Homo sapiens: one gene and its partner. Each later gene encodes a partner of the first gene's protein in a complex. Each region holds a gene or a part of one and is shown in the gene's direction. Other genes may lie near its edges. The genes, in order: FLNC and FBLIM1.

The links.
Region 2: the proteins of FLNC (region 1) and FBLIM1 are in contact, whole or in part, in an NMR structure (PDB 2K9U), measured with the Homo sapiens proteins. Residues at the interface, in NP_001449.3 of Homo sapiens: Thr2339, Ala2344, Gly2345, Gly2346, Leu2347, Ser2348, Ile2349, Ala2350, Val2351, Glu2352, Gly2353, Pro2354, Ser2355, Lys2356, Ile2359, Phe2361, Asp2380, Glu2382, Phe2387; in NP_001337080.1 of Homo sapiens: Arg8, Val9, Ala10, Ser11, Ser12, Val13, Phe14, Ile15, Thr16, Leu17, Pro19.

Annotation. Positions count from the first base shown.
Region 1 is NC_000007.14:128,838,271-128,847,461, forward strand, and holds part of FLNC (filamin-C), read left to right. Parts: coding exon 1-159; intron 160-332; coding exon 333-533; intron 534-1,752; coding exon 1,753-1,890; intron 1,891-2,277; coding exon 2,278-2,404; intron 2,405-2,563; coding exon 2,564-2,700; intron 2,701-2,899; coding exon 2,900-3,093; intron 3,094-3,183; coding exon 3,184-3,297; intron 3,298-3,960; coding exon 3,961-4,104; intron 4,105-4,304; coding exon 4,305-4,428; intron 4,429-4,523; coding exon 4,524-4,684; intron 4,685-4,958; coding exon 4,959-5,049; intron 5,050-5,137; coding exon 5,138-5,307; intron 5,308-5,525; coding exon 5,526-5,643; intron 5,644-5,733; coding exon 5,734-5,996; intron 5,997-6,387; coding exon 6,388-6,985; intron 6,986-7,719; coding exon 7,720-7,893; intron 7,894-8,030; coding exon 8,031-8,193; intron 8,194-8,474; coding exon 8,475-8,635; intron 8,636-9,191.
Region 2 is NC_000001.11:15,756,086-15,772,221, forward strand, and holds the start of FBLIM1 (filamin-binding LIM protein 1), read left to right. Parts: upstream 1-2,709; 5' UTR 2,710-2,763; intron 2,764-8,407; exon of another isoform or gene 8,408-8,410; 5' UTR 8,411-8,600; intron 8,601-8,878; 5' UTR 8,879-8,898; coding exon 8,899-9,148; intron 9,149-11,290; coding exon 11,291-11,478; intron 11,479-12,442; coding exon 12,443-12,545; intron 12,546-14,323; coding exon 14,324-14,493; intron 14,494-16,136. UniProt on the Homo sapiens protein: Serves as an anchoring site for cell-ECM adhesion proteins and filamin-containing actin filaments. Is implicated in cell shape modulation (spreading) and motility.

The DNA of each region.
Region 1 (9,191 bases):
CCGTGCTCTTTGCTGGCCAGAACATTGAACGCAGTCCCTTTGAGGTGAACGTGGGCATGGCCCTGGGAGATGCCAACAAGGTGTCAGCCCGTGGCCCTGGCCTGGAACCTGTGGGCAATGTGGCCAACAAACCCACCTACTTTGACATCTACACTGCGGGTAGGACGGGCCCCAGGGGGTGCAGGTGGAAAGCCCCTGACCATGTGGGGCTGTGTGGGGGTGGGGGGAGGCTGGGACAGGGATGCCAGCCAGAGGGTGGGCAGCCTCAGGGTGAGGGCACCGGGGCAGCTGTGTGTGTCCAGAGTGGTGCTGACAGCCTCTGTTTTCGGCAGGGGCCGGCACTGGCGATGTTGCTGTGGTGATCGTGGACCCACAGGGCCGGCGGGACACAGTGGAGGTGGCCCTGGAGGACAAGGGTGACAGCACGTTCCGCTGCACATACAGACCTGCCATGGAGGGGCCACATACCGTGCATGTGGCCTTTGCGGGTGCCCCCATCACCCGCAGTCCCTTCCCTGTCCATGTGTCGGAAGGTAAGGGCCCTTCACTGCTCCCCACGGTAGCCCTTACCAAAGCCAGAGGCTTGCAAGGGGCAGGAGGAAGAGCTGGGGCGGGGGTCTGCAGAGACCCCCTCCCTGAGTCCTCCATCCCACCCCCAAGGTGGCTGGAGTTCCTAAGAGCACAGCTGGGAGGCCACAGTGAAGGGTCCCAGAACATGTGCCACCCTGGGAGGGCTGAGCGGAAGTGACGGGGCTGTATGGGTGGGGGCATATCTAGGGAGTACTGCCTGCATGCCAAGCCCTCAGGTGGTGACTGCCCCACTTGTTCTCTCCCTGCACTCAGTGCCCATCGTCCACCAGGCCGAGAGTGATGCCACATTAATGCTCTCCAGTGGAGGCGGGGCCAGGCATGGCCGCAGCTGACTGGCCTCACCTGTGCTGTGTGGCATGGCCCGGGCCGTGTGGAATCGCCCCCCCTTCCTTGGCATTCTGTGGCAGGCCCCAGGTTCCATGCCGTTGTCTGTGTTCTGTGGCAGGTCTAGTGTCTTTGCCACTTGCCTGGTGATTTCTATGATGAAATCTGGGCTCTGAGCCATTGCCTGTGTTCCGTGGTACCCCTTGGGCAGTGCCATCGCCTATGGTCATGGTAGTCCTGGAATATGTGTCGTGTCCTGTTTCGTAGCACCTGTGGGTCCCATGCCATTTTTCTGGATTCTGTGGCAGGCTGAGATTCCCATTCCTTTGCCTGTGTTCCATAGCAAGGCCTGGGCTCATTGCCACTGGCCACGGTCTGTGGTAGGCTGATGTCCACACGTTGCCTGTGTTGTATGGCAGGCTTCGAGTTCTATGAAGTAGCCCTTGTTCTGTGGCATTGCTGGATGTTTTGTGGCATGACTTAGATCCTAAGGTTGCTTTGGTGCCCTGAGAGGCCCAGAGGGCTCTAGATGGATGGCCTTGGGCTGGGTAAAGGGGCCTTCCCTGTCTCTCTGAGCCCACTCTCAGCCCAGGCTCTGCCATGCATTTCCCCAGTGGCACTGGCTCGGAAACTTTCTTGTAACCTGCCTGATCTGGGGCCTGTAGCCAGCTCCAGCCCGGCAGCCCCGGTTGTGCTGGGGACACAAAGGGCTCCAGAGCAGGGCCGTGGGCCACTGCCTGTGCCTGGGAGGGGTTAGAAGGACTGTGCACAGGGAGGTGGGGGCTAGTGGTCCAAGGCCCCTCAGCACCCCCAACCTCCTTTCTCTTCCTCCCCTAGCCTGTAACCCCAACGCCTGCCGCGCCTCTGGGCGAGGCCTGCAGCCCAAGGGTGTTCGCGTGAAAGAGGTGGCTGACTTCAAGGTGTTTACCAAGGGTGCCGGCAGCGGGGAGCTCAAGGTCACGGTCAAGGGGCCAAGTGAGTGCCAGAGCCCAGGGTCGTGAGGGTGGGGCTGGGGGATCATAAGGGAAGTATGGCCAGTGGTTCTGACTCCCAGAGGGCAGTGACAGCCAGCACCACAGCTCCACAGTGACCAGAGGCACCCCAGAATCTCAGGCTCATTGTCTCCTCTCTGCCTCAGTTTCTTGGTCTACAAGCCAGGAATGATTCTCTCCACCCTAAGTGCTATACGGGGTGTTATGCACAGGGATGACAAGTGTTCCCTGCCCTGAGTTGCAGCACTGCTCACTACAGCACTGCCCTCGGGCTGGGTCGGGGTCCCAATGGCTCCTTGAGGGGATTGAGGAGCTGGGACTTCAAGGATATTGATCTGCCTTCTTCCCCACCCTGCCCCCATCTCCTCAGAGGGCACAGAGGAGCCAGTGAAGGTGCGGGAGGCTGGGGATGGTGTGTTCGAGTGCGAGTACTACCCGGTGGTGCCTGGGAAGTATGTGGTGACCATCACGTGGGGCGGCTACGCCATCCCTCGCAGGTGAGTACCTTGCGCCCCCCATGCTGTCCTGTCTAGGCCATCACAGGGAGGGACGAGGGGCACTGGGCTGCGAGGGAGTTTGAGGGGAGATGGAGTTTGGGCTGCGAGGGACTTTGGGGGGCACTTCCTGGCATGGACACCAGCTCCCTCTCTGCCCAGCCCCTTTGAGGTACAGGTGAGCCCAGAGGCAGGAGTGCAAAAGGTCCGGGCCTGGGGTCCTGGTTTGGAGACTGGCCAGGTGGGCAAGTCAGCCGATTTTGTGGTGGAAGCCATTGGCACCGAGGTGGGGACACTGGGTAAGTGGCTGGGGGGCAGGAGGAGGGAGTGCTGCGGGGGAGGGCAGCAGGGGACACTGTGGGTAATGGGTGCAGTGCGCATGCTGGGGAGCGCTGGGGTGAGCAGGGAGATAGGACATGAGGGCAGCTAGAGGGGAGCTGGGGGACGGAAGGGTCTTGCCTGATGCTGGATCCCCGACCCTCCCCCACCTTGCCCCAGGCTTCTCCATCGAGGGGCCCTCACAAGCCAAGATCGAATGTGACGACAAGGGGGATGGCTCCTGCGATGTGCGGTACTGGCCCACGGAGCCTGGGGAGTACGCTGTGCACGTCATCTGTGACGATGAGGACATCCGAGACTCACCCTTCATTGCCCACATCCTGCCCGCCCCACCTGACTGCTTCCCAGATAAGGTGTGGTCCCAGCTCACACACACCTGCCCCGGGGGTGGGGCAAGCTGGTTCTCCTCCCCTCCCCAACTCAGCCTTCTTCCCTCCGCACAGGTGAAGGCCTTTGGGCCTGGCCTGGAGCCTACCGGCTGCATCGTGGACAAGCCCGCTGAGTTCACCATTGATGCTCGTGCAGCTGGCAAGGGAGACCTGAAGCTCTATGCCCAGGTAGGTCATTGTCCAGTCTCTGCTGCCCTTACTACCCATGGCAGGGACCCTGGAAGGCAGGGCCAGGCCAGAGGCAGAGGCCTCCCAGCAGGAAATGACAGCATCACAGAAGATCAGGCAGGACTGATACTCATGGGCCCATCAGTACCATGGAAAATTTTAAATTTTGTGTTTTCTTAACGATGATAACCTAAAAACGTATTTTACCAAAGAGTCATTTTTGTGCTAATTTGTAATTGAAAGATTGTTTCATTGAATAAGACACTGGTTTCCCAAGTCAGTTTCTCAGACTGGTGTCCATTGACCCCTAGAGGTTAATGAACATATTCTTGAGGATCTAAGAGGGTGATTCTTCTTTGAAAGGCTCATGATTCAGTTTTAGGAACATAAATTTAGCCCACACTCTTCCTGTCCAACACATTTCAGAGTTGAGGAAACCTAGGCTGGGAGAGCAAGCCATACAGATGGCCTTGAGTCAGGCTCCCAGGGTGGGCTCTGGCCGCCAGAGCACGTGGCCCTGGGCTCTGGTGGCCTCAGTGGCTGGTGTGGGGGCGGGAGTGCCAGTGTTGGGGGTGGGAAAGGAGGCGCTGGGTTCACCTGCGGCCAGCAGAGGGCGCTCTGCAGAGGCCACAGCTATGAACTTTGCTTGGGTGATGCCCACAGGACGCCGACGGCTGTCCCATCGACATCAAGGTGATCCCCAACGGCGACGGCACCTTCCGCTGCTCCTACGTGCCCACCAAGCCCATTAAGCACACCATCATCATCTCCTGGGGAGGCGTAAACGTGCCCAAGAGCCCCTTCCGGGTGCGTCCTCCCGGCCTGCCCCGTGCCCACCACCAGGGGTCCCTGAGGGAGGGCGGAACCCTCGCTGGAGTCCCTGTTGTCCCTGGGCTCAGGCTGGGACTGAGGCTTGGGCTGGTGCCACTGAGGCTGGGCCGGGTGCGCTGGGCAGGAGGATGAGCCTTGAGGGAGGGCACCACGCTGAGCTGCGACCCCTCCCGCAGGTGAACGTGGGCGAGGGCAGCCACCCCGAGCGGGTAAAGGTGTACGGCCCCGGAGTGGAGAAGACAGGCCTCAAGGCCAATGAGCCCACCTACTTCACGGTGGACTGCAGCGAGGCGGGGCAAGGTGCGCCCAGCCGGAAGGGGTGGGTCTGGGAGGGGGCGGGGGTGAGTCGAGTCGGGGGCTGAGCCCAACTCACAGCAGTGCCCGCTTCTCTGCAGGCGACGTGAGCATCGGCATCAAGTGCGCCCCAGGCGTGGTGGGCCCTGCAGAGGCTGACATTGACTTCGACATCATCAAGAATGACAACGACACCTTCACCGTCAAGTACACGCCACCAGGGGCGGGCCGCTACACCATCATGGTGCTGTTTGCCAACCAGGTACCTAAGCTCCTGGGTACTCACAGCGACATGCACCTGCCAGCTCCAGAAGGCAGCTGGAGATGCTGTCACTGGGAACAGGGAGGGATGATTCCGCAGACATGGTGGAGCCCTACCTGTGTGAGGCAGGGTGCCTCAGAGGAAGCAAAGGGGGCCCTTTTGGAGGCTGCCCCTGTCCATGCTGGGTCCCCTGGGTGTGTCCTGAGCCAGCATCTAGCTGAGAGCAGGGGTGTGTTCCCCTCGAGAGCCCTGACTGAGCCTCCTCCACATCCAGGAGATCCCCGCCAGCCCCTTCCACATCAAGGTGGACCCATCCCACGATGCCAGCAAAGTCAAGGCCGAGGGCCCTGGGCTGAATCGCACAGGTGAGTGTCTGGGCAGGGGCTGGGACTGGCTCGAGGTTGGGGTTAGGTGGCTGCCAGGCCCTCACCACATCTCTGGGTGGGTCCTCAGGTGTGGAAGTCGGGAAGCCCACCCACTTCACGGTGCTGACCAAGGGAGCCGGCAAGGCCAAGCTGGATGTGCAGTTTGCAGGGACAGCCAAGGGCGAGGTTGTGCGGGACTTTGAGATCATAGACAACCATGACTACTCCTACACTGTCAAGTACACCGCTGTCCAGCAGGTGCGCTCTGCCCCTCCCATGCTACCGCCCGGCCGGCCCGCCAGAGCCCTGGGTCTCCCTCCTCCAGTCCCATGGGACCAGTTCTGGATCCTCCACGCCTTTCCTGCCTCCTGCCCTCACTCTCATGGTGGATCTGAGCTTCAGAGCCCATATTCACCACCAGGATGTTGTAGGACCTTGCCTTATATCCAGTTCTGACCTACCATTGTACCCAACAGGGCAACATGGCAGTGACAGTGACTTATGGCGGGGACCCTGTCCCCAAGAGCCCCTTTGTGGTGAATGTGGCACCCCCGCTGGACCTCAGCAAAATCAAAGTTCAGGGCCTTAATAGCAGTAAGTGGGGCAAGAGCCACCCTGGGAGTGAGGGGTATTCGGGTAGGGTGGACCGGAGTCTCCTCATGGTGTCACTTGCCCTCCACGCAGAGGTGGCTGTGGGACAGGAACAAGCATTCTCTGTGAACACACGAGGGGCTGGCGGTCAGGGCCAACTGGATGTGCGGATGACTTCGCCCTCTCGCCGGCCCATCCCCTGCAAGCTGGAGCCAGGCGGTGGAGCGGAAGCCCAGGCTGTGCGCTACATGCCCCCGGAGGAGGGGCCCTACAAGGTGGATATCACCTACGATGGTCACCCGGTGCCTGGCAGCCCGTTTGCTGTGGAGGGTGTCCTGCCCCCTGATCCCTCCAAGGTGAGGAGATAGGAGCTGGTTGGGGCTGGGAGTTGGGGACTTGTTGGGAAGATAGATGAGTCATAGGGGGCAGAGGCCAGAGGGACTTATGTGCCTGGAGTGGGCACAGCCAAGGGTGTGGGGCTGAGGCCAGCCCCACCCCACCACCTGCCTTGGAGACAACTTAGCTATTAAGAGCCTGGCCTTGGAGTCACACCTGGGCTTGAATCCCAGGTCCACTAACTGGGGCAAATTGCTTCATCTCGCTGCCTCAATGTCATCACCTGGGATTGTTATAAGCACTCAGTCCACAGTAGCAGCCACAGTTGGAGGTGATGAGTTGGGTGGGGGCCATGAAGGCTGGGATGAGGAGGCCAGGTGCAGGGAACCCACAACCTGCCTCTTCCCCTAGGTCTGTGCTTATGGCCCGGGTCTCAAGGGTGGACTGGTAGGCACCCCCGCGCCATTCTCCATCGACACCAAGGGGGCTGGCACAGGTGGCCTGGGGCTGACCGTAGAGGGCCCCTGCGAGGCCAAGATCGAGTGCCAGGACAATGGTGATGGCTCATGTGCTGTCAGCTACCTGCCCACGGAGCCTGGCGAGTACACCATCAACATCCTGTTTGCTGAGGCCCACATCCCTGGCTCGCCCTTCAAAGCCACCATTCGGCCTGTGTTTGACCCGAGCAAGGTGCGGGCCAGTGGACCGGGCCTGGAGCGCGGCAAGGTCGGTGAGGCAGCCACCTTCACTGTGGACTGCTCAGAGGCAGGCGAGGCGGAGCTGACCATTGAGATCCTGTCGGATGCCGGGGTCAAGGCCGAGGTGCTGATCCACAACAACGCGGATGGCACCTACCACATCACCTACAGCCCTGCCTTCCCTGGCACCTACACCATTACCATCAAGTATGGCGGGCATCCCGTGCCCAAATTCCCCACCCGTGTCCATGTGCAGCCTGCGGTCGATACCAGTGGCGTCAAGGTCTCAGGGCCTGGTGTTGAGCCACACGGTGAGTGGACAGGAGGAGCCAAGAAAGGTCAAGTGGCAGGTGCAGGAGCTGGGTAGTCCGTGGGAGGGAGGGAAGAAGAGCTGAGAGCTGGAAGAGCAACCTGGGGTGAAGGGAGGGCTCTCGGAGCAGCCCCAGAGTCCTTACTGGCCCAGAAACCCCAGAGAAGGAGTGGAGGGGAAGACCGGGGGTGGAGATTGGCCTCTGCTCTTGTGGCAAAACTGCACCTGCCTCTGGGCGTTTTTCTGGAGAGATCTCTTCTTTCATGTGCTTAAGGGGTACCCTGATCCAAAAAGCTAAAACTCTGCTCTGGACGGGGGCACGGGGAAAGCTTTGGGGTAGAGGATGACAAGAGTCAGAAGACAGTAAGTGGGAATGGGCCATCTGCCAGGGGCCAGACCCTGGCTAGGCATGGGCCACGGCAGAGGGATGCAAGACCCAGGCCCACAGCCTGGTGGGTGACTCAAGTGAACAGAGAATGTCACTACATGGAGAAGGGAGTGAAGGCAGAGGCTGGAGCTCACAGAGGTGCAGGGGAGGGTGTGGGGCCCAGGCTCCGATTAGAGGAGCAGCCTGGGAGTTGGGGAGTGGGAGAGGAGGGGGAGAGGAGGGTGAGAGGAGGGGAAGAGGAGGGGAAGAGGAGAGGGAGAGGAGAGGGAAAGGAGGGGGAGAGGAGAGGGAGCATCTGTGTGAAGGCTGCCCCCACCCCTGCTGAACACGCCACCCCTGGGCTCCAGGTGTCCTGCGGGAGGTGACCACTGAGTTCACTGTGGATGCAAGATCCCTAACAGCCACAGGCGGCAACCACGTGACGGCTCGTGTGCTCAACCCCTCGGGGGCCAAGACAGACACCTATGTGACAGACAATGGGGACGGCACCTACCGAGTGCAGTACACCGCCTACGAGGAGGGTGAGGGCCGGTGGGCCAGGCTAGTGGGCAGGGCTGGGCAAGTGGGCAGGGCCGGGATCTGATGATATTGCCCTCGGGGCAGGAGGGGTGGTGGGGGCGCACACTCCCTGATTGATGCCCCTGTGGCTGGCTTCCAGGCGTGCATCTGGTGGAGGTCCTGTATGATGAGGTCGCTGTGCCCAAGAGCCCCTTCCGAGTGGGCGTGACCGAGGGCTGTGATCCCACCCGCGTCCGAGCCTTCGGGCCAGGCCTGGAGGGTGGCTTGGTCAACAAGGCCAACCGATTCACTGTGGAGACCAGGTATCCTCCCCCTTTGCTAGCCTAAATCTGTGACCACCCTTTCCCAGCCCCTGGCCCTCCTCGCTCATCCCTCTGCCTGGGCCTCAGCCCCACCCCATCCTCTCTCAGGGGTGAGGCAGGAGCAGACCCCCTCCAGGACCCCAGATTGGCCCCTGTAGCTCGTTTCTCCTCAGCTGGGTCCCCAGCGGCCTGCCCTCTTTCCTCCCTGTCCCCCCATTCAGCTACTCCCTCATCCTCACTCACTGGTCTTATGAAGCTGATGGGGGGATGTTATCTCTCAGGGGAGCGGGCACCGGGGGCCTTGGCCTAGCCATCGAGGGTCCCTCGGAAGCCAAGATGTCCTGCAAGGACAACAAGGATGGTAGCTGCACCGTGGAGTACATCCCCTTCACTCCTGGAGACTATGACGTCAACATCACCTTCGGGGGGCGGCCCATCCCAGGTGTGCAGAGAGAGTGGTCGGGGTCTCAGGGAAGACAAGGGAGGGTGCAGGATGCTCGCCCCACAAGGGGGAAACTGGAAGGAAGTTGGGTAAGAATGTTCATAGAGAGGACAGCCTAGAGTGGGTTGGGGCCGGAGCCCGGCCAGAGGGAGGACGTGGAGGAGGCAGGCAATGAGGGTTGATGTGACAGCCCCCCTAGTCAATCACAGGAACACACTCTGGCCTCCTAGCCCCTTGTCTGGAGCTCAAGACCTTGGCTTTGCAGGTCCACCACTCACTGTGTGTCCAGAAACTCAGACACAGTCCACTCCTCTTGGCGGCTCAGGCCAGCCTTGGGCCTTCTTGCACGCATCGTCTGCAGAACTCCCCTGCCCTCTGCAGACCCAGCTGCCCGGGCAGGTCATGTCTTCAAATATTGTATGACTTGGGACTGCTGAAATTGGAAATTTTTTCCCTTATCTAATTTCCCATCTTTTTATTATTTCAGCCACAGTGTCAGAAATACATTTCATTTTTGAAAACATTTTATTTTCACATTTTATTAATTTAGGAAGGC
Region 2 (16,136 bases), on another chromosome or scaffold:
AACCCTCACCTCCTCAGAGAGGATTTCCCCCCACACCCCACACCCCACACCCACCCCACCCCCTTTTGTCTCAGACCCCTTGTCCATTCCTTCATAGCACCTTTTACTATTGGTTATTGTTATGTTAATTTGCTTTATGGTTTGCTCTACCCAATCTCCCTGTAAGGACTGTGGGGACAAGGACTGATCATGTCTGATTTGATCCCGTCGGCTCCTTGACTCATGCATTGCACACAGTAGGTGCCCGGTCAGTGTCTGCTCAGTCAAAGCTCTCCACTGTGGAGGTGCCACCCCCGCCCCGGCAAGCAGACTTGCCCTCAAACCTCTCTTCCACCCCTTCCCTGCCACTCAGGGTCTCAGCTGCCACCATCCTAATAGAAGATTGAGCCCCTTGCCTGCTGGAGCCATCTAAGGGAGAAGAAAGCCGTTGTGAGCCTGGCAGGGAGGGCGGAGGGCAGCAGAGCCTCTGAGCTGGCAGACAAAGGGCGTGTGTTCTCATCCAGCGCACTTCCTGGGTTTCCGTTGCAGGAAGTTTGGCACCTGCCGATCGGTGACATCGACACCCGAGCTGCTGCGGGCCAGGACGAATCCCTCCATCCGGGAGCAGTGGTGGCGGTGGAACAGGTGGCCTGGGGTGCTGGAGGCAGGTAAGCAGAGGCAGTTGAACCCCTCATTCCCCTTGGACTGTCCCAGAGCAAATGTGGGAAGCCTGGGTCCTAGACTAAGTCAGTGTGACCTTGAACAAGGCCCCAAATCAACTCTTCGTTGCCTCACTATCCCACCTGGGGGTGCAACAGGTGGTTCAGGGGCTGTCATGGAGGTGAGGGCAGGCAGCTCCACTTTTATCTCTTAAATAAACTTCTGGGTCACTAAGCATTTGCAAAGGGGTTCTACAGCCAAAAGCGCCTGAAAACCCCCAGATCGCACCTTCCTCCTTTGAGTCCTTCCCGTCTCTGTCGTTCAGAGGGTATGGGGAAGTCTCCTCCAAAGGGTGCTGCAAAGCTGGAGTTTTGGGGGGCAGGGGCAGGATATCACTGCCAAGCCAGGAATGAGCCGAGCAGGGACTCAGACAGCCTTGAGTCCCAGCCTCGCCCTGCTGCACAGAACTCTCAGCACCTCCAAGCCCCAGCTTCCGATTCTGTAAAGGATGGCACTGGTACCTGTTCTTGAGACTAGCAGAGCTGTGTGCCCAGGGACACAGCGGCTCTGGTTTGAATTTGGCTCTGCCATTTGCCCCTAGTGTGGCCTTGAGCCTCTCGGGGCCTCAGTGTCCTTGACCGTGAACAGGAATCATCAGCCCTGGTGCTCATGGCTCTTGTGGGATTAGGATGGGGATGAGGATGGGTACCAGCACCTAGAAAGCCCCTATCAATGGCAGCTCCTGGGACTGCTGCTGTTACTGCAGCTTGGCTGAGAGGATCAAATGGGAAAAGGGGCGACAAGAGGGATGGGAGGGGCGATGATCAGTGGGTGAGGGCGGAGGCAGCCTCCTCTGACCCTCATAAACCAGCCTCCCTCAGAAACAGCCCCAGAGCCACCCTGGAGGGGTGACTGTAGCTGAGGGGTTGCAGGACGGGCCAGATCCTGTCTGGCCACCCCGCAGATGGCGCTGGGTCCAGCGCTCCTCAAGCCTCAGCCACTGTGGCTTTAATCAAAAGAACAATCTGTCTGCCTCTGAATCAGACCCAGATTCCTTTCCCCACAATGTCCCTGAGGCCTCCAGGGACCCAGGCAGTCCATCCCGGCCCCATCCCGGGCCCCAGAGTCCAGGCTCTGCCTCCCCTCCCGCTCCCGTCCTAATTGCTCCAGCTGGGAGGGGGAGGGTCACTGGATGTGGAGGGAGGGGTTCAGCCACAGGGCCAGCCGGGCCCTGCCTTCCAGAGCTCCTGGAGCGGCCTGTCCCCCGGGACACCGGGACCCACCTGCAGAGGGCTTACCGCTCAGGAGAGCAGAACAAGGTGACCTGCTCCACTGGGGGTCTCCGAGACCCCCACCCTCAGGAACACTCCCGGAAAAAGCCCCCAACCCAGCATATATTAACCACTATTAATCACAGTCCTGGCTGTAACTGTCACCTTTTATCCTCAGGCCAACCTGGAGAGGTAGGCAGTGGCTACCTCCACTTTACAGATGAAGACACTGAGGCTCAGGAGGTGGCGTGACTGCTCCGGGTCTCACGCTTAGTAAACGGCCGCAGAACCCTGGTCGGTTTGACGCAAGACCCTGGCGGATCCCAGAGCCAAAGTAAGCGCTCACCTCCGCCGGACAGGGTAGGTGGGGTTGCCAACCCAGGAGAGCGAGGGAAGGGGGACGGCAGGGACCACTCGGGGTCCATGAAGAACGCGAGGGGATGGGCAGCGGGGAGGGAAGGAAACCCACCCCGACTCCCCATTCTCCTACCCCCACTCCCCATCCCTCCCATTCCCCCATCGCCCCCATCCCCATTCCCCCCCATTCCCACCCCCTGGCCTGTGCCAAGGGGGAGGGGAGGCGTCGTCCAGGGAACAAAGGGAGGGGGAAGGGGCGGCGCGGGGCGCGGCCGGGCAGGTTGGGGGGCAGGTAGGGGCCGCTTCCGCGGGGCGGGAATCCCGCGCCCCCTCCCCCCGAGCCTCACCTTTTATGGTAAAGCGGCGCGGGGCGGCGGGGCGGAGGGAGCCGAGGGGGCGGGGAGGGCGGACGGGCGGAGGGGACGGGAGGCCCAGCGGCTCCGGGCTCCGCTGGCTCGGGCGTCGGATCGGAGCCGCCGGGGCGCGGGCGGCCCAGGTAAGCGGGCCGGGTGGGTGGGGGTCGCGTCCCTCCGTCCCTGTCCCCGGTGCACACAGGTGACAGCGCCGGCAGTGCTCGGCCGGAGCCTGCTCGGTCGCCAGCCGGGACCCCCGGCGCGGCGCCCCTGGAGGGGCCTGCGGGTGGGGGGTGCGGTCCTCACGCCCTTTGCGTCCCAGTCTCTTGGTCTCTCTCCCCGGAGTCGGGGAGTCGGCAGGTCCGGGGCGAGGGCTCAGTGAGGCCGGCGGAGGGCCGAGTCCCAGCCCGGGAGCGGGAGCCGGGGACCCGGCGCGCAGGGCGGAAGCTCCCGCACAAAAGGCCGGAGTCCCGCACATGGATCGAATTAAAGCTCCGGCGGCGCCCAGCGGTGACCCCGGCGGCCGCCCTGCTCGGCTGCCTGCGGAGGGTCCCGCGTTTCCGGAGCCCGGGGGCGCTCCAGGCCCCTTTTCCTAGCCAGGGTCAGGCAAGGGGAGGGACGGGTCCCGGGGCTGCTCCTCTCTGGGCCTCACGCGCCCGTCGGGGGCTGAGAAGGTGTGGAGATGGGCGATACCCAGGTGTGTGCCCTGGGATGATCTTGGCGTCGGCCCCTACCCCTCACCTCCCACCCAAGCCTGAGGACCCCGGGGAGAGGCTGGGGCCGCGCCCAGATTCCTGCTCTTAATGACGCTGTAGGTTCTGTCCGGGTCCTGGAGGCACCCCCAGCCGAGCCCAGCCCCCGGGCTGCTTCTCCCTCTCAGCTGCTGCCTAACCAGCTGTCCTTCTCTTTGCACCTTCCAAGGGCCTAGACCCTGAGTCTTCTTTCCTTATATATCCTCTCAGCCGCCCTAGGGACACACTCATTCTCACTTTATGAAAAAACGAGGCCAGAGAGTTTCTGTGACCTATTCGGGGTCACCCCGCAGGAAAGAAGTGGGGCCGCGTGTGAACCCAGCTCTCTACCTCCTCTGTTTCCCTGGGGTGGGAAAGAGGTTGAGGGAACCCCTCCCCTAAGTTGCAGGGTGGGAGGGGTTGGGGCACACCCCGCCACTTCTGCCTAAATTTAATTCCGTACCCAAAGGTAGACTGCTTTATCCGGTCATTAAAGAACAAAGCTGGCCGGGAGCGGTGGCTCACGCCTGTAATCCCAGCACTTTGGGAGGCCGAGGCGGGCGGATTACCTGAAGTCAGGAGTTGGAGACCAGCCTGGCCAACGTGGTGAAACCCCGTCTCTACTAAAAATACAAAAATTAGCCGGGTGTGGTGGCGCGCGCCTGTAATCCCAGCTATTCGGCGGCTGAGGCACGAGAATCGCTTGAACCCAGGAGGCGGAGGTTGCAGTGAGCCGAGATCGCACCACTGCGCAGCCTGGGCCACAGAATGAGACTCTGTCTCAAAATAAATAAATAAATAACAAAGCTTAAGCCGGGTGTAGTGGCTCAAGCCTGTAATCCCAGCACTCTGGGAGGCCGAGGAGGGCGGATCACTTGAGGTCAGGAGTTTGAGACCAGCCTGGTCAACATGGTGAAACCCTGTCTCTACCAAAAATACAAAAATTAGCCAGGGGTGGTGGCGTGTGCCTGTGGTCCCAGCTACTCAGGAGGCTGAGGCAGGACAATCGCTTGAACCTGGGAGGTGGAGGTTTCAGTGAGCTGAGATTGCGCCACTGCACTCCAGCCTCGGCCACAGAGCAAGATTCTGTCTCAGAAAAAAAAAAAAAAAAAAAAAGAACAGAGCTTAGAGGTGGCCCCAGAGGTTTTTTTGTTTTTTTTTTTCTTTGTAGGGAACAAGGAGTAGGAAGGAGGACTGTGGGGGTGACCCCCCCTGAGCTGCACATTCTCTGCCCCAAGGCTGCAGCCTCTAGCTGGTCTGGGTGGCTGGCTGGATCCCTGCCTCCTTCCTTCCTTTGGACAGGAAATGACTTTCCTTCCCTTTGTTCCCACTTTTCTCCACTTATCTAACTGGATCTGTGATTCGCTCTCTGGGGGAGGAAGAGTGGGGGCGGAGGGTCCCCTGGGCACAGCTGACTGGGAGATGGCCCCAGGGAACTTACACACAGCCTGCTCCCAGCTGAATCGGTGGCAGTGGGACGGGAGGGAAGCCGGGGCTCCCTCTCCCGATGGGATTGACAGGGCTTTGAAACTCCCCAGCTTAGACCCCCTGGGGCCTGAGGTCCCTGCAGTCACTGCTTGGGAGGTATAGGGGCTGCCCAGCTGTGAACATCTGGCCTCAGTGCTGGACATTTTCCGAGAAGCCAGGCAGATCCGACTTCCCGGAGGAGTGTAGGAAGGGTCAGGGCTGGGTGGGAGGAGGCAGAGGGCCATCCCGAAGCCCCACAGCAGCCCCTGGGGACCAGCCCGGAACATGCCGACCACAAGATTTCTGGTCTGGATTGGGCCATTGTAGAGTGAGAACAGGCCTGGGAACTTGGGCGACTTTGTGCCACCCAAGGAAGGAAAAGCGTGTCTGGGGACACACTTTTGGATGATGTTCCATTAGAATTCCGAGTGCCATGGATGGCCTGGGAAAGTCACTTAACCTCTTGGAACCTCACAGGGTCCATCTGCAAAGTGGGGGCAGGATGGGCATTTCTTGCAGCTAGATTGAGAGGCTGGTGGGTTTTGAGGCACATATAGTACCTGGCACAGGGCCTGGCACGAAACAAGTGCCTTATCAGCAAGTCGTTTGGTATTTCTTTAAATCTCACATGTACTCTGAACATTGTTGACAAAAATAGATTCTTAAACTTATAACAAAGTGTAAAACTAAAGCCCGTGACAGCCAGCCTAAGCATACGTACTTCCAGACATCATTTCCAAACCCAGAAGCAAAAGACAAGTACTTTAAAATAAGTTTTGAAGCTCTTTCCTAATATATTGGTTTCTTCCTCAGAATAGATATTTTATTGTCAGACTGAGCTATGTATTTTAGCCAAACAACTTAAGGGAATTTAGGAGCACGTGTTATTGTTTTTATTATCATCCATCAGTCGCTGTGAACCCAAAGTGGCCAGTGCACTTTGAGATAAGGAGGGAAGCCTGAAGAGCGAGATAGAAAAGGGGACATTTTTAGCCCTGGGCACAGGCATTGGGTGCCTGCTGAGGACTGATGTGCTCACTGGACTCCCAGCTTTCCCACCCATGGCCCCACCTCAGCCTTGGCCACAGGGACTACTGTCAGCAGGAACTACCTGAGAGATGGGAAATAATGTCCTTTTCCTGACATCAGGGTATCAGGGTGCCACCATGCTCTCTGATTTATGCTTTTCTTTTTTTTTTTTTCGAGACAGAGTTTCACTCTGTCACCTCGGCTGGAGTGCAGTGGCACAATCTCAGCTCACTGCAACCTCGCCTCCCAGGATTCAAGCGATTCTCCTGCCTCAGCCTCCTAAGTAGCTGGGGACTACAGGTGCATGCCACCATTTCTGGCTAATTTGTTTTTTTTTTTTTTTTTTTTTGAGACAGACTCTTGCTCTGTTGCCCAGGCTGGAGTGTGGTGGTGCAATCTCGGCTTACTGCAACCTCCGCCTCCCGGGTTCAAGCAATTCTCTGTCTCAGCCTCCCGAGTAGCTGAGATAACAGGCGTCTGCCACCATGCCCAGCTAATTTTTGTATTTTTAGTAGAGACAGGGTTTCACCATCTTGGCCAGGCTGGTCTTGAACTCCTTACCTCGTGATCCAACCACCTTGCCCTCCAAAAATGCTAAGATTACAGGCATAAGCCTCCACGCCAGGCCAAATTTTTGTATTTTTAGTAGAGACAGTGTTTCACCATGTTGGCCAGGATGGTCTTGAACTCCTGACCTCAAGTGATCGCCTACCTCCCAAAGTGCTGTGATTACAGGCGTGAGCCATCGGGTGGCCAGATCTGGGTTTTGATGCCTGCGCTCTGATATCCTCTAGGCACACAAAGAATGCAGACACCGGTCAGACGCATTGATAGTGAGCTTGTGAGCCAGCCTGTCCTGCCCTGGGGCTATCATCGCTTTCGTCCACCCTTGGCAGCAGGAAACTGCCCCTGGAGAGGGCCAGGAATCGGGGGGTGCCTTGTGGAAGAGGTGATGTTTGAGCTGGGCCTCTAAGAGAAAGCTGAAATTCACCCTGTGGGGGCAGGACAGGAAAACCATAGAAGAAACACTGCAAGGCAAGAGAGAGGACATAGGAAGGGCGAGTGGTCCAGGGGCTCAAAGAGGCTGAGGCTGCCGCAGTTGGACTTCATCCTGAGGTGGTGGAGAGCCATACTTTTTTTCTTTTTTTTTTTTTAGACAGAGTTTCGCTCTTGTTGCCCAGGCTAGAGTGCAATGGTGCCATCTCACCTCACTGCAACCTCCACTCCCACGGGTTCAAGTGATTCTCCTGCCTCAGCCTCCCAAGTAGCTGGGATTACAGGCGCCCGCCAGCACACCCAGCTAATTTTTGTATTTTTAGTAGAGATGGGGTTTTACCATGTTGGCCAGGCTGGTCTCGAACTCCAGACCTCAGGTGATCCACCTGCCTCTGCCTCCCAAAGTGCTGGGACAGAGTCTCACCGGGGTGCGATGGCTCACGCCTGTAATCCCAGCACTTTGGGAGGCTGAGGTGGGCGGATCACGAGGTCAGGAGATCAAGACCATCCTGGTTAACATGGTGAAACCCCATCACTACTAAAAATACAAAAACAAAATTAGCCGGGCGTGGTGGCGGGCACCTGTAGTCCCAGCTACTCGGGAGGCTGAGGCAGGAGAATGGCGTGAACCTGGGAAGTGGAGCTTGCAGTGAGCCAAGATCGTGCCACTGCACTCCGGCCTGGGCAACAGAGCAAGATTCCGTCTCAAAAAATAAAAATAAATAAAAAAAGACAGAGTCTCGCTCTGTTGCCCAGACTGGAGGGCAGTGGTGCAATCTTGGCTCACCACAACCTCGGCCTCCCAGGTTCAAGCGATTCTCCTGCCTCACCCTCCCAAGTAGCTGGGATTACAGGTGCCCACCACCACGCATGGCTAATTTTTGTATTTTTAGTAGAGATGGGGTTTCACCATGTTGGCAGGGTGGTCTCAAACTCCTGGCCTCAAGTGATCCACCTGCCTCGGCCTCCCAAAATGCTGGGATTACAGCTGTGAGCCACCATGCCCGGCCCATGGAAGGTTTTTGAGTAAAGGAGAAAGAGATTGATGCTCTAGAAAGATCAGGGTTAGGAGGTGAGACCAGAGGCCATGGAGCCTCCCCATCTCTCCCCTTGCCCCCTGCCCACTGCCCAGGCCTGAACCAGGACCCAGGTTTTGGAGATTGGGTGGAGTGAGAGAGTCTGGCACTAGAAAGCAAGCAAGGAGGGTGCTGGCTCATGTGCAGGGCTGAGAAAGGTCAGAGCAGAGCAAAGTGGCCAAGAGCATGGGCTCTGGGTTCCAGTGCCACCTCACCACCGTGTGACCCTGGACAGGTGACTTCTCTCTGAGTCTCGATTTCTTGATGTGTTAGGTGGGTGATGATAGTGCCTGCCCTGCAGCCACCTTGTGAGTGTTTATGAGTTAATGAGCATAACGTGTGAGTGTTTATGAGTTAATGAGTATAACATGCTCAGGGCAGAGCCGGTCTTGGTGAGGGCAGCTCTCACTGTGCCCTGCCCACTCTGCCGCCGGAGCCTAGCCCTGACGCCCTGGCAGATCCTGATCTGTTCTCTTTCCCTCCCAAAGCAGAGCTGGCCTGAACCTCCAGGACTTCAGCCCTTCTAGGAGAATCTGATCCCAGGTGAGGGAGGTCACTTGGGGTGTGGCCCAGCAGGCAGGCGGGACTCCAGACTGGGAACGGAAGTCAGCCCTGCTGGGGCTGGGAGCTGAAGCATCTGTTCCTTCCTCGCGGGTGTGAGACAAGGAAGAGTGATCATTGGTGAGGGCTGCCCTTTGCTCCCCTAGGTGTGCAGGTTCGGGGGAGGGGCAGTCAGGACTTTTGGGTCTCACCCCTGTGGCCAAGTTCCCTGGTGGGTCCTGTCTTCCCCAGCAGGACACCCCCACCCCTTCTCTGGCTGGGCTGGGTGCTGGACTGAGTTGTTGAGATGGTAGGGTGGCTGGCCTGTCTTTTTGGGAGGAGGGAGGCTCTCTCCTCTCGGGGGAGGGTGGCTGTGTGTCTGGGTGGCAATCCTGTGCTGTACCCCACTCTGTCCCTAGCCACACCAGGAGCTGAAGCCATGGCCTCAAAGCCTGAGAAGAGGGTGGCATCGTCTGTCTTTATCACCCTGGCACCCCCGCGCCGCGATGTGGCCGTGGCGGAGGAAGTGAGGCAGGCAGTTTGTGAGGCCCGGCGTGGCCGCCCCTGGGAGGCTCCTGCCCCCATGAAGACACCCGAGGCTGGCTTGGCGGGGAGGCCCAGCCCCTGGACAACCCCTGGCAGAGCTGCAGCCACAGTGCCGGCTGCACCTATGCAGCTCTTCAATGGAGGTAAGAGCTGAGGGGACTTTGGGGAAGACCACGTCAGAGGCAGAGGTGGGGAGGAAAGGGCAGGCTCCAGCGTCATTCATTCATTCATTATTCATCCTGACAAAATTCACACATCAACGGGAAACAAAAAGATGTGCCCCTTCTGGGTGGGCAAGGGAGCCCGGGAAATAGAGGCTAGATGTCAGAATTTCCGGGACATTTTCATGGGTTATTGGGATTATGGGAAGAGGATCTTGGGAGTGTGGGAACAAGATCAAACTTGCCTGGGAAGGGCTGTCCTGTCACTGGTCAGCATGGCTGGCTGGCCGTTTCGTCTGCCAATTTAATACCCTCAAGCAGAGCACGGGGATCTTGGGGTTCAGTCTCCCTGAAGTGAGATAAGTTTTAGGTGACCAGCTTGGTCATGCGCCTGGTCTGACTGCAGGACACAAAGGCTGGCCCCGGGCCCTGGGGATGCTGCCAGCTGCTTGAAGCCGTCTACACCGAAGGCTGCCATCTGCCATCTGCTTAGTACTTGTCCTCTCAGAGTCATCCTCGAGCGGGTCCAGGACCCCCTTTCTGCCCACCTGCCCTGTGGCCTCGGGTCCCCCTGCTTCTCTCTTGAATTCCTGCCCGCCCATCATAGCCTATGGGCCCTGCACCGGGAGGCAGGCACTGGGAGAGGCCACAGCACTCTTACTGCCTCTCCAAGACCTGGTTCCTGACTCCGTGAGCTCATCGGAGCCTCTTTCTCTCACTTCCGCTGAGTCAGCAGCAGCATCACCCGGGCCTGTACCAACACAGTCACTGGGTCCATTCCAGCACAGCCGCAGGCTCCCACCCCAAGTATCTCTGATTCAGCAGATCTGCCGTGGAGCCTGAGAATTTGCATTTTTTTTTTTCGAGACAGGGTCTTATTCTGTCACCCAAGCTGCAGTGCAGTGCAGTGCAGTGGTGTGATCACGGCTCACTGTAGCCTCAACCTCCCTGGCTCAAGCAATCCTCCCACCTCAGCCTCCCAAGGAGCTGGGACCACAAGCTCTCACCACCAGGCCCAGCTAATTTGTGTGTGTGTGTGTATGTGTGTGTGTGTGTATATTTTGAGACGAAGTCTCGCTCTGTCACCCAAGCAGGAGTGCAGTGGTGCGATCTCGGCTCACTGCAACCTCTGCTCCCCAGGTTCAAGCAGTTCTCCTGCCTCAGCCTCCCAAGTAGCTAGGATTACAGGCGCCCACCATCACACCCAGCTGATTTTTGTATTTTTAGTAGAGACAGGGTTTCACCAGGGTTGCCAGGCTGGTCTCAAATTCCTGACCTCAGGTGATCTGCCCGCCTCAGCCTCCCAAAGTGCTGGGATTACAGGCGTGAGCCACCGCGCCCAGCCTAATTTTTTTTTTTTTAGATGGAGTTTTGCTTTTGTTGCCCGGGCTGGAGTGCAGTGGCGCAATCTCAGCTCACTGCAACCTCCGCCTCCTGGGTTCAAGTGAATATCCTGCCTCAGCCTCCTAAGTAGCTGGGATTACAGGCATGCCCACCACGCCCAGCTAATTTTGTGTTTTTCGTAGAGATGGGGTTTCTCCATGTTGGTCAGGCTGGTCTCAAACTTCCAACCTCAGGTGATCTGCCTGCCTCAGTCCCCCAAAGTGCTGGGATTACAGGTGTGAGCCACTGCACCCGGCTTTTTTTTTTTTTTTTGAGACAGGTTCTGGCTCTGTCACCCAGGCTGGAGTGCAGTAATGTGATCTAAGCTCACTGCAGCCTCAACCTCTTGGGCTTAAGTGATCCTTCCACGTCAGCCTCCCAAGTAGCTAGGACTACAGGCTTGTGCTGCCATGCCTGGCTACATTTTTTTTAATTTTTAGTAGAGTTGAGGTCTCACTATGTTGCCCAGGCTGCTCTTGAACTTCTGGGTTCAAGCGAACTGCCTACCTCGGCCTCCCAAAGTGCTGAGATTATAGGCATGAGCCACCGTGCCTGGCCTGAGATTAAGTTTCTTGCCTAAGGACACACAGCAAATCAGTGGCAGAGTTAGACATGGAACCCAGGCCGGGGTGATCCCGACCGGGGCCCTCAGCTTCCCTCTGTATGGCCATGTAGGTAAGTAAAACCCTCCCAGGTCCACCTGGGAGGCTCTGACCAGCCCTCTCTCCTCCCCCATTGCAGGATGCCCACCCCCTCCTCCTGTCCTGGATGGTGAGGACGTGCTTCCTGACCTGGACCTCCTCCCACCCCCTCCACCGCCCCCTCCAGTGCTTCTGCCTTCTGAAGAGGAGGCTCCTGCTCCAATGGGGGCCTCACTCATTGCAGACTTAGAGCAGCTGCACCTGTCCCCGCCCCCGCCCCCACCACAGGTACTGCCTGCCCCCCGACCCCCAGCAATCCCTTGGTCCCCTTGGTTGGGGCACGGGGAGTCTGGGCCTTCTGGGCATTCAGGGGTTCTAAACCTGGACTTTGTCTGGTGCATTCTTCTGCTCGGGGGCAGTCCCTCTTTGAAGCTCTCAGAAGTCCCTATTTAGGCAGGTAAAAATTGGTTAAGTGTTTCAGGGTCCCTGGAGAGGGATGCCACTGCCTCGCTGCTGCACCTGCCGCAGACACCTCCTTCAGCTCTGAGGAAGACGTTTCCCTGAGTCCGACCTAAATCCCTTAGGCTGCATAGGAAACCTGGATTTTTGTTTGTTTGTTTGTTTTTGAGATGGAGTCTCGCTCTGTCACCCAGGCTGGAGTGCAATGGCATGATCTTGGCTCACTGTAGCCTCCACCTCCCAGGTTCAAGCGATTCTCCTGCCATAGTCTCCTGAGTATCTGGGATTACAGGCACCCACACCATGCCTGGCTAATTTATTGTGCTTTTATAGAGACAGGGTTTCACCATGTTGGTCAGGCTGGTCTCAGACTACTTACCTCACGTGATCCGCATGGCTCGGCCTCCCAAAGTGCTGGAATTACAGGTTTGAGCCACTGCACCTGGCCAGGAACCTGTTTTTTAACCCTGGGCCCTTAACAGAGGCTGTGTAGAAATGGGGGGCGTCACAGGCCAAGGGCTTAGTCCACTTCAGTCCAGCATCCATGGGGAAGCCTGGTTGCAGGAGAGTCCTTCTAAGTAGGACAAGGAGCAGTGGCTGATTGAGGGACCCCAGTCAGCTGCCACTGTGACCTTCCTGCTGAGAGACTTACGCAGGTCCCTTGCTTCCCTGGGCCTTGGTTTCCTTCTCGGTACAATGCGGCTAATTGTACCTGTTACCACCCAGATGAGGAACAGAGCTGGGAGGGCTGCATGGGGTCCCACTGGATGACTCCCCGTCTGCATCCCCACAGGCCCCAGCGGAGGGACCTTCAGTCCAGCCCGGTCCCCTCAGGCCCATGGAGGAAGAGCTGCCACCTCCCCCGGCAGAACCTGTTGAGAAAGGGGCATCCACAGGTAGGTGCACAGGGCTGAGAGGATACTGGGGTGATCTCATGGGGCCAGCATGGGCTTCCAGGTAGAAACCAAGAGAGTGAGGACCCCTCTTCCCATCCCCACCCCAGCTCATGTTAACAATGATGGGCTTTGTAGTTCGGCATCCATTTAATTTGTATTGCTTTAGCCTTTTTCCCTTTATACCTAAATTCTATTTAAAATGTTAGTCTGCAGTTTGCTATGATAGCAAAAATGTCTTGAATTTTTTCTCACTATTTTATTTTCTGAACACCTAATGCCCTCACACAGTGCAAAATAAACAGCATGAGTGGGGACACAGTGAGAAGCCTGCAACCTGCCCCATCCCCCTACCACCCGGTTTCCTTCCAGATGGGTGTCCTCTGTCATTGAGCTCTCATGTATCCTGCCAAAGACACTATGCACATACGAGCAAATACAAATATGTGTCCACCTGCTCCCTCCCCCCATTTTTCCATAAGTAGCAAACTAGGCTCTTCTGCTGTTCACTTTCTTTCCTTCGTACATCTCAGAGCTGGTCACACATCAGAATATAAAGTGGCTCCTGGCTGAGCGTGGTGGCTCACGCCTATAATCCCAGCATTTTGGGAGGCTGAGGCAGGTGGATCACCTGAGGTCAGGAGTTCGAGATCCGCCTGGCCAACATGGTGAAATGCTGTCTCTACTAAAAATACGAAAGTTAGCTGGGTGTGGTGGTGTGTGCCTGTAATCCCAGCTACTCGGGAGGCTGAGGCAGGAGAATCTCTTGAACCCAGGAGGCGGAGGTTGCAGTGAGCTGAGATTGCGCCACTGCTCTCCAGCCTGGGTGACAGAGTGAGCTTCCGTCTCAAAAAAATAAAAAAATAAAATAAAATAAATAAACAAAGTGGCTCCTGGCTGGGTGTAGTGGTTCATGCCTGTAATCCCAGCACTTTGGGAGGTCAAGGCAGCCAACAATCCCTTTGTCCTGAAACTGCTGTCCAGAATTCCTTATTTATTTATGTTATTTATTTTTATTTTTATTTTTTTAGACAGAGTCTTGCTCTGTCACCAGGCTAGAGTGCAGTGGCGCGATCTTGGCTCATTGCAACCTCCACCTCCTGGGTTTAAGCGAGTCTCCTGCCTCAGTCTCCTGAGTACTGGGACTACAGGCGCCCGCTACCACGCCCAGCTAATTTTTGTATTTTTAGTAGAGACAGGGTTTCACCATGTTGGCCAGATGGTCTCGATCTCTTGACCTTGTGATCCGCCCACCTCGGCATCCCAAAGTGCTGAGATTACAGGTGTGAGCCACCGCGCCGGGCTCTTTATTTTTTTTAATTTTTATTGTTTTTCCTGAAACAGAGCCTCACTCTGTTACCCATGCTGGAGTGCAATGGCACAGTCTCGGCTCACTATAACCTCTGCCTCCTAGGTTCAAGTGATTCTCCTGCCTCAGCCCCATGAGTAGCTGGGACTACGGGGGCATGCCACTATGCCCGGCTAATTTTTGTATTTTTAGTAGAGATGGGGTTTCACCATGTTGGCCAGGCTGGTCTTGAACTCCTGTCCTCAAGTGATCCGCTCACCTTGGCCTCCCAAAGTGCTGGCATTACAGGTGTGAGCCACCATGCCTGACTCAGATTCCTTTTTAATGCTCCTCATGACCCTCTGTATTTGTCATTTGAGGAATTTGCAGGGTTTAAGACAGAGCCTCGGGTATCCTGAGCATGTTCTGGGTGGTGCCTGGGTACAGTCCTCACAGGCTGGGCTGGTGATGGCCTGTGTCTCCCCTACCCCAGACATCTGTGCCTTCTGCCACAAGACCGTGTCCCCCCGAGAGCTGGCTGTGGAGGCCATGAAGAGGCAGTACCATGCCCAGTGCTTCACGTGCCGCACCTGCCGCCGCCAGCTGGCTGGGCAGAGCTTCTACCAGAAGGATGGGCGACCCCTCTGCGAACCCTGCTACCAGGTAACCCCTGCAGCAGACCTCTGGGTGCCAGGCAGTGAGCTGAGCACTTAGAATATGTTGCACCATTTCATTCCCCACACAGTCCTGGGAAGTAGGCACTATTGACCCCTTTCACAGATGAGGAAACTGAGGCTCAGAAAGAAGGAGCCCAGTGAAGGCGATTGGTTTCCTAGGGCTGCCTGTAAGAGATCACCACAACCTTCGTGGCTTCCAGCAGTACACGTTTATTCTGTCCCAGTTCGGGAGATCAAAAGTCCAAAATCAGCTTCACTGGGCCAAAACCAAGGTGGTGTGCTGTCTGGAGGCTTGAGGGAGAACCCACATCTCTGCCTTTTGCAATTTCTTTTTTTCTTCTTCTTCTTCTTTTTTTTTGCGGTGGGGGACGGAGTCTCACTCTATCGCCCAGGCTGGAGTGCAGTGGCACGATGTCAGCTCACTGCAACCTCGGCCACCCAGGTTCAAGGGATTCTCCTGCCTCAGCCTCCCGAGTAGCTGGGATTACAGGCACCTGACACCACACCCGGCTAATTTTTGTATTTTTGGTAGAGATGGGGTTTCACCATCTTGGCCAGGCTGGTCTTGAACTCCTGACCTCGTGAGCCACCCACCTCGACCTCCCAAAGTGCTGGGATTACAGGCATGAGCCACTGCGCCCAGCCTGTTTTTTTTTGTTTTTTTTTTTTTTTAAGATGGAGGCTCATTCTGTCACCCCAGCTGGAGTGCAGTCGTACAATCTCAGATCACTGCAACCTCTGCTTCCCGGGTTGAAGCAATTCCCATGTCTCAGCCTCCTGAGTAGCTGGGACTACAGGTGCCTGCCACCATGCCCAACTAATTTTTGTATTTTTAGTAGAGATGGGATTTCACCACTTTGGCCAGGCTGGTCTCAAACTCCTGACCTCAAGGAATCCACCCCCTCGGCCTCACAAAGTGCTGGGATTACAGGTGTGAGCCACCGCACCTGGCCCCTTTTGCAGTTTATGAAGCTGCATTCTCCTTGACTCCTTCCTCTGCTTCAAAGCCAGCAGTGTAGCATCCCACTTCAGCGGCCCTATTGTCACCTCTGTGTCAAGTTACAGGGACACGCGATGGCATTTAGGACCCACCTGGATAATCAGGATAATCTCCCCCATCTTAAGATCCTTAGCTCATCCCATCTGAAAGCCTCTTTTGCCGGGCAAGGTAACATTCGGGGTCCAGAGATAAGGACTGGATATCTTTGGGGGCATCTCTTAGCTACCACACGAGGTCACACGAGATGGCCAAGGAGCTGGGATTCTACTCCACACCCATCTGGCTCTGGAGCCTGCCATCAGTCTTGCCACTATCTCCCCTAGAGTAGAGCCACAGGGTTCCAATGTTTGATCTCACGGGAATCTGTGTTGCTTCCGGGTACCAAGTGCAATCTGGGAGAGCCAGCTGGGATGCCAGCACACTGGAATTTCTAACTCTTGGATGGTTTGTGGTGGCATGTTGAGTGTGGTGACCACCCACAGCCGCATCCCCTGGGGATGTGTAGGCCACTCTTTGTGCTTATGAATGAGGAACACCTGGAAATCAGCATTTTGAATCAGTGTCTCAAGTGATTCTCATGCATATAGAAGTTTGAAAACGGCTGATTTGAAGGGTTAGAGTATTTGGAG